3 separate regions of the Homo sapiens genome follow, and regions 2 and 3 are each linked to region 1. Evidence: fine-mapped expression QTL. A gene starts in region 1. Each other region holds a variant in brackets. All regions are shown on one strand. Distances are from middle to middle.

Region 1 (2,758 bases):
GTGATATTCCACTAAATGAGAAATGACCAGGACTTCACAGAGATTTCATGAAAGGAGGGCCACAAAGGAAGAACCCAGAGCAGGCCGGTGAGAGGCACTCTAAGAGGTACAGAGGGTTGCACCAATTGCTAGGATTTAATCAATCAGAAGGGGTCCAAGCCAGGAAGCAAGGGCATGCCCCGAGCCTCATTTACCCGCCTTGTCACCACCCTGCCCGCTAGTACATTTCAGAGTCTCTAACCCCTCCCTGCATGCAAGCCCAGGCAGAGTCCTGCCAGGTTTCACACCAGAGCACACCCCTGCACGGACTCCCCAGGACCGCGGCGCCGGCTGGCTGCCTCGGCCCCCCGCGGCCGCGTGAGCTCCCTCTTGGTGGTGGAGGGCGCATTTCAATCTGGAAACTCCCAGCCCCTAATTTGGTCCCGCAGACTGACGCCGCTCCCGGTGGGGCGGTGGGGGTAGGAGGGCAAAGGGGAGGTCTCCTCCTTCTTGGATTGAGGCTGCAACCAACAGCCCCGTGAGCCTCTATTCCTGGCTGACTGCGAATCCCCCCATCCCAGGTCAGGGGCCGGGACCCTACAGAAAGACCCGTTCTCATCCTCAACCTTGCGGCCTCTGTCCGGCGGGGAAGTTCAGCTGCGGGTCAGTTCAGCTGCGGGTCCGGCCAAGCCTGGCGCGCTTAGGCACCCTAGTCCCTGGTCCGCGGCCGGGCGAGGACGGAGGGGGAGGGGAAGGGGCTGCTGCCTCCTTTCCCAAATCCGGTCCCTAATCGCCCCATCCCCCGCCGTCTACTCGCTTTGTACAGGCAGTCAAAACAGAGCTAGCGGCCAATTGACGGGGACGGGAAGCAAAGCCGCCTAGCGCCTCGCCCCCTCCAGCCGGCCCCCCGGGCCCCTCCTCTCGGCGCCCGGACCTTGGCCCTCCCTCTCCTTTCCCACTTCTCTCTTTGCCCTAACTTCGCCCCCATCCCCCGCTCATTTCCTCTCGCACCCGGGCTCGCCAATCCCTCTTTCCAAGTCCCTCTTCCAGCCCGGCCTTCCTCTCGGGTTCGCCCCCCTTCTCCCCAATCTCCGTCCTCTTCCCTCCCTTCGCCCTCCCCCCCTTCCTTCCTCTTCCCCTCACCCAACCCTGGTTCCCCTCGTTCCTCAGTCCCGATCTCTCCCTTACTCTGTCCCCGCCCACTCTGCGCCGGCCTCTCAGTCCGGGTTGAGCCCCACGTGTGGACGGCCGCGCCCCCACTGACAGCCGCCGCCCGCCGGCCCGCCCCGCGCCCCGCCGGGCCTCTAAAACCCCCGCGCCGCGCCCTCCACCGCCGCATCTTCTCCAGCGCCCAGCCTCCCGCCCTCTCTCTTGCTGGCCGCACGCCCCGGCCCCGCGCACCTCCGCCCGGCTCCGCAGCCGCTACCCGCGCTTCGTTGCCCTGTGGGACTCCGAGCGAGCCCGGAGGGAACCCTCCTCTTCTTCTGGGGGCGACTTTTGTTTGCTTGCCTGTTTCTTTCTGGTGACTTTTGCAGCTTTCCAATATCCGTCTTCGGAGCGCACGGGAATCCGCCGAGCTCTGCGTGCAGGCCCTTTTTTCTTTTGAGGTTCACATTTTTTGAAATTTTACGCCAGGGCTTTTGTAATTTCCTCCCCCGCCCGCTGACGGTCCTGGAGTCGCTCGGGGCTTTAGGCCGGTTATGCAACGTGTACCGCTCGGGGCTGCCGGCTGCACCTCCGCCGCGCCTCGCCGCTCACTGCGCTAGACCCGGCGCCCCGCGTCTCGCTTCGCGGGCAGTCAGGGGGCCGGCGCTCTGTCGAGGTCTCCAGCTAGAGCAGGGAGCCCGAGCCCGAGGGAGTCCCCGGAGCCGACGAAGGGCTTATTAGACCCTGACTCTTTTCTGAGGCGCGCAGATTTTGTCTTTGATCACTCCCTCTCCGCGGGTCTACGGCCGCGCGCTTTCGGCGCCGGCGATGGGGAGAAGACGGAGGCTGTGTCTCCAGCTCTACTTCCTGTGGCTGGGCTGTGTGGTGCTCTGGGCGCAGGGCACGGCCGGCCAGCCTCAGCCTCCTCCGCCCAAGCCGCCCCGGCCCCAGCCGCCGCCGCAACAGGTTCGGTCCGCTACAGCAGGCTCTGAAGGCGGGTTTCTAGCGCCCGAGTATCGCGAGGAGGGTGCCGCAGTGGCCAGCCGCGTCCGCCGGCGAGGACAGCAGGACGTGCTCCGAGGGTAAGTGGGCAAGCGGCTCCGCACCTAGGGCTCCGGCTTGGGGGAGGGGGGAATCCTCAGTTTGGCGGCTTTCTGGCCCACTCCGTCCCAGACCCTTTAGCTGGAGCCTAGAGCTGCAGCCCCCTTTGCCAGAATATCCAAAGACCCCCAGGAGCGCGTCCCCCTTTTCCTTCCCAACCCCGCAGCTCAGCGGGCGGAAAGCCCTCTCTCCGGGGGTTGGGCGGCGGGTGGTTAGGGGGTCCAGGGGTGCCGATCGCAGAGCGTGTGCAGAGCTCGCGCTGCGGGAACAGGTTCTGAATGTCCGGCGGCAGGCGGGCCTGGGTCCGCCTGCTGCAGGGGCCAGAGAAGCCTGCTTGCTCCCCACGTCGGGGCCGCCGCTCGTGAGCCTTTTGTTTGAGGACGTGTGCAGGGTTCACAGCTCACCTTCTCATCGTCAACCCGAGCGCTCCACCTTGCGACGCGCTTTCCTTGACACGTCGGGGCCAAAGTAACAGTTGACCAAGGAGGAATGGATTTGGGAAGGAGGGCAAGGATTCTTTGGAACGGAATGG
Region 2 (2,758 bases), 120 kb before region 1:
TAAAAAATTTTTTGTGATTAAGGTGGTAGTTGAAACCAAGGTTTAGAATGATATGTGAGGATAGGATAGGGGGATATAGAATGAGAAAAAGACAAAGATTAACCACAGAACTCTAGGGAACACCAATGTTTAAGGAGCAGGCCAAAGTATAGGAGCCCATTCCAGAAATTAAGATGGAGCCAAGGACAAACTTGAAGAAGTACCATGGAAGAGTAGTGCTACAGAAACAAGTGAAAAGGGAATTTAATAAGAGCATGGATATTGTTTGGTTTTGTGTGCCTGCCCAAATCTCATGTTGAATTGTAATCCCCAATGTTGGAGAGGGGTCTGGTGGGAGGGGATTGGATTGTGGAGGTGGATTTCCCCCTTGCTGTTCTTCTGATACAGAGTTCTCATGAGATCTGGCTATTTAAAAGTGTGGAGCACCTCCCCCCTTGCTCTTCCTCCTGCTCCAGCCATGTAAGATGTGACTGCTTTCCCTTCCACCATGATTGAAAGTTTCCTGAGGCCTCCCCAGTCATGTTTTCTCTGTGGCCTGCTGAGCAGTGAGCCAATTCAACCTCTTTTCTTTAGAAATTACCCAGTCTCGATTCCTGGGCAAGATGGCCGAATAGGAACAGCTCCAGTCTGCAGCTCCTAGCAAGATCAATGCAGAAGGCAGGTGATTTCTGCATTTCCAACTGAGGTACCCTGCTCATCTCATTGGGACTGGTTAGACAATGGGTGCAGCCCACAGAGGGGGAGCAGAAGCAGGATGGGGCGTCACCTCATCCAGGAAGTGCAAGGGGTTGGGGAACTCCCTCCCCTAACCAAGAGAAGCCATGAAGGACTGTGCCTTGATGAACAGTGCATTCTGGCCCAGATGCTATGCTTTTCTTACAGTCTTGGCAACCCACACACCAGGAAATTCCTTCGGGTGAGTACACCACCAGAGCCCTGGGTTTCAGCACAAAACTGGATGACCATTTGGGCAGACACCGAGCTAGCTGCAGGAGTTTTTTTTTCATACCCCAGTGGTGCCCAGAACACCAGTGAGACAGAACCATTCACTCCCCTGGAAAGGGGGCTGAAGCCAGGGAACCAAGTGGTCTAGCTCAGCAGATCCTACCCCCATGGAGCCCTTCAAGCTAAGATCGACTGGCTTGAAATTTTCACTGCCAGCACAGCAGTCCGATGTTGACCTGGGA[T/C]GCTCAAGCTTGGTAGGGGGAGGGGTGTCCACTATTACTGAGGCTTGAGTAGGCTGTTTCCCCCTTACAGTGTAAACAAAGCCGCTGGGAAGTTCTAACTGGGCAGAGCCCACTGCAGCTTGGCAAAGCCGCTCTAGCCAGACTGCCTCTCTAGATTCCTCCTCTCTGGGCAGGGCATCTCTCAAAGAAAGGCAGCAGCCCCAGCCAACCGCTTACCGATAAAACTCCCGTCTCCCTGGGACAGAGCATATAGGGGAAGGGGTGGCTGTGAGCACAGCTTCAGTAGACTGAAATGTTCCTGCCTGCTGGCTCTAAAGAAAGCAGTGGATCTCCCAGCACAATGCTCAAGCTCTGCTAAGGGACAGACTGCCTCCTCAAGTGGGTCCCTGACCGCTGTGCCTCCTGACTGGGAGATACCTCCCAGCAGGGGTCAACAGACACCTCATACAGGAGAGCTCTGGCTGGCAACTGGTGGGTGCCCCTCTGGGACAAAGCTTCCAGAGGAAGGAACAGGCAGCAATATTTGCTGTTCTGCAGCCTCTGCTGGTGATATCCAGGCAAACAGGACCTGGAGTGGACCTCCAGCAAACTCCAGCAGACCTGAAGCAGAGGGGCCTGTTAGAAGGAAAACTAACAAACAGAAAGGAATCACATCAACATCAGTAAAAAGGACATCCACACATAAACCACATCTGAAGGTCACCAACATCAAAGACCAAAGGTAGATAAATCCACAAAGATAAGGAAAAACCAATGCAAAAAGACTGAAAATCCCAAAAACCAGAAAGGTTCTGTGATCCTCCAAAGGATCACAGCTCCTCCCCAGCAAGGGAACAAAACTGGATGGAGAATGAGTTTGATGAATTGACAGAAGCAGGCTTCAGAAGGTGGGTAATAATGAACAGCTCTCAGCTAAAGGAGCATGTTCTAAAACAATGCAAGGAAGCTAAGAACCTTGAAAAAATATTAGAGGAATTTCTAACTAGAATATCCAGTATGGAGAAGAACATAAATGCCCCAATGGAGCTGAAAAACATAGCATGAGAACTTCATGAAGCACACGCAAGTATCAATAGCTGAATCGATCAAGCAGAAGAAAGGATATCAGAAATTGAAGATCAACTTAATGAAATAAAACATGAAGACACGATTAGAGAAGAAAGAATGAAAAGGAATGAACAAAGCCTCCAAGAAATATGGAACTATGTGAAAAGACCAAACCTATTTTTGATTGGTGTACCTGAAACTGATGGGGAGAATGGAAGCAAGTTGGAAAACATTCTTCAGGATATTATCCAGGAGAACTTCCCCAACCTAGCAAGACAAGCCAACATTCAAATTCAGGAAATACAGAGAACACCACAAAGATACTGCTCGAGAAGAGCAATCCAAAGACACATAATCATCAGATTCACCAAAGTTGAAATACCAGAAAAAAATGTTAAGGGCAGCCAGAGATAAAGGTCATTACCCACAAAGGGAAGCCCATCAGACTAACAGTGGATCTCTCTGCAGAAAACCTACAAGCTGGAAGAGAGTATAGGGGTCAATATTCAACATTCTTAAAGAAA
Region 3 (2,758 bases), 33 kb before region 1:
TAATAAAAATAAGACTTGTCTACATTATGGGTAACATAATTAAACCAGGATAACACAAATTTGTTTAAATATAAACTCCAAACCATCAAGTTGCTTCATATGTTTGCATTCACTTATAAAATACGATCTCCTGAGATATCTTTCATTGGGCTAAACACCAAAACAAGCAAACAGATTCTGAAAAATAAAAAGACAGCATTCTGGGATTTCAAAGTTGACAAATTAAGCGTTCCTATGTAATAAAATGATTTCATCTTGGAATTATCTTTTGCTATTTAGTTTATGAACTCTACGTTATCCAAGCTTACATTTCATAAAAGTGTAAATATGTTTAACATAGATCACTTTTGCTTCATTACTCATGCTATTAGATTTTAAACCTTGAACCATAAGTCCTTGTGTGACTCCACTGGGAAATCCCTCATAGTGTTAACATTTTTTTACACTCAAGCGCTTGTTTACTCCATTTTCTCACTTTTTAACAAATTAAAGTTCCAATGTATTACAGCAGTTTTACATTTGTCTAGATAAGCCACAGAAAAGACTAACATAATTTAGGAAAGAGGCACAGAAGATAGTGCATGGTATCAGAATTCATGAGAAAGGGAGTACTGGATTGTTTTTTAATTTTCATCCAAAGTAACAGATGATCTCGCTTCCATCATTAAAAAACACGATTATATAAATACACATATAAGAAGTAATCTATAAGCAAGTGCAAACTAATTACGGTCTTAGGAAAGGGATTTTTGTTTTTTTACCCTTCCTCCAAGTCTTTTATTTATTTTTTGAGCTTTTTAAAAAAAACAACAAAAAACACAACCAAAAGAACTGACGAGAGGAAGACAAAGCCCCAGGATCAGCCAGAGACCAAGCAGCATGGGATGAGGCCCAGGTTGGGCCTAGCAGGATCTGTGGAGCAAGGTGGTGGAAAGTCCTGAGGCTTATGGTCATGTGGGGTCTGCAGAAGGAGAGGAGGTCACTTAAAAAGAAATACATATACATTACACATCTATACAAAGTGTCCCATGTTGAGGGAGTGAGGCGAGGTCATGGGAGCTGGCCCACTTTCTCCTCGGACCAGCCTCCCAACAGGCTCACTAGCTTGGCCAGCACAGGGACCCCTGTAGCTAGCGGTCTTCTTCTGTGGAGTGAGGGGAACATAACAATTTAGTTCCAGTTCCAACCCATGGTGGGCAGAGGTTGGTGGAAAGGGTTTTGTTTTTG[T/G]TTTTGGTTTTGGTTTTTTGTCTAAGTGTTTATGCTAGTGAGAAAATAGTAAAGAAATTAGCCGACATAGATAATATAGAGTATATATATTTTTAGATGCATTTTTCTAGAGAAAGAAGAAAAGTTATACTCTAGGTAATGCAACACATACAGAAGTTTGGAGATGGGACAGTAATAGCGTGACTGCAGAGATTCACGTTAGTGATTAATGATGATGATAATGGCTATAATTGAACAGTAATATTCAGGACTACAGAAAAATCTGATTCGTTTGACAGAGCAGAATATCTAAGACAAAGGAATTCCCAAATATGACGTATGGTAGTCTTTTAATGCAATCCAAAAAAGTTAGGGTTTTATTTTAGAAGCTATAAAGCTCATCTCTGAGCTGAGAGTGAGGAATATAACTTCTTTAATCTGGTTCTCTATAAAAATGTATCTATATAAACATGGGACTTACTATGAAATGAGGGTTGCTGAGGAGGCTAGGTAGAGTATCCAGTTTGGAGAAAAGTGAATTTGAAATAAGGCTAAAAAAATGGAGAGTTAAGATACTGAAAATTCTGTAAAGCAATGTTTAGGCAGGAGAGAGAAAAAGTAGAGAAGCACTATGGTTATCACTCTAGGGAAATCAATGGTGATCTGTTTTTGTATCAGTTCTAATGTCATCATAAAAAATCATTGCATGAAAGAAGGTCGCAATGTTTCAAGATCATTTTTTCAATGAAAAAAATAAACAAATCTAGTGAACACTAAAGGTTGCAGCCACCTCTATGTTGTTCTTTTGAAACACTAAAAGAATTAAATTTTTAAAATTATTCAATAAAACTTAAAAGATATCAACTTAACCATAAAAAAATCACTAAAAAGGTATAGGTGCAAGTATAACAAAAATTTACAGAAAAGAATTTTACCTGCTTTATATATTCGGGAAGGACAGACATTCAAGAAACAAGTTCCTTTATAATGAACGTCCTTTAAAAGAATTGCTTACATTTCTCTTCATAGTGAAAAAGGAGCCATTCTACATTTGAAAGGGAAAATCTTCTTATTTATAAAAGGCGTCTTCATCCAAGAATCTTAAATGTACTATGGCAATTGGCTTCAAAATATCTACCCCATAAATTGCTTAATATAGTTTAAAGATGGGAAATTTGAAACCATATGACTTTACTTTCCTGAGATTTTCACTATTTCAGAGGGATGAAGGAAAGGGAGACAGAAATAAAAAGAAAAGGAGAGCTGTGAAAAAGAAATTCAAACAAATCCATAATAAAAAAATTTGAGGAAAAATTAAAGATATAAGTCTCTTTACCACTCACATGTATTTTAGTTTTTCCTAAGGAAATACAATTTATTGAATCAACTGAGAAATTCCTTTGGTAGATGGGGAAAAAAAGCAAAAGTTGCTTATTATTTATTTGTTCTTTTTCAATATATAATGAGGGTTTTATTATATTTACATGGTTCAGAAAAAATTAAATTGATTTCCTGCATATTGTCCTAGTTTAATAACCAAAAACTGGTTTGG

What was found. PIP is the estimated chance that this variant, and not a neighbour inherited with it, causes the effect.
Region 2: its variant is fine-mapped to the expression of FBN2 in whole blood (INTERVAL, PIP above 0.99).
Region 3: its variant is fine-mapped to the expression of FBN2 in whole blood (TOPMed, PIP above 0.99).

What each region holds. Positions count from the first base shown.
Region 1 is chr5:128,536,799-128,539,556 of GRCh38, reverse strand. It overlaps FBN2 (fibrillin 2), which reads left to right and starts at 1,312. Exons shown (of 65, transcript NM_001999.4): 1 at 1,312-2,207. The coding sequence starts at 1,954. RefSeq lists enhancers at 486-986, 2,712-2,758.
Region 2 is chr5:128,654,268-128,657,025 of GRCh38, reverse strand. All of the region lies in intron 1 of LOC105379167 (a long non-coding RNA gene), which reads left to right. Among named protein-coding and RNA genes, the nearest start is that of FBN2, 120 kb to the right of the region's middle. The variant T/C (reference allele first, on the strand shown) is at 1,188.
Region 3 is chr5:128,569,890-128,572,647 of GRCh38, reverse strand. No RefSeq gene overlaps it. Among named protein-coding and RNA genes, the nearest start is that of FBN2, 33 kb to the right of the region's middle. The variant T/G (reference allele first, on the strand shown) is at 1,228.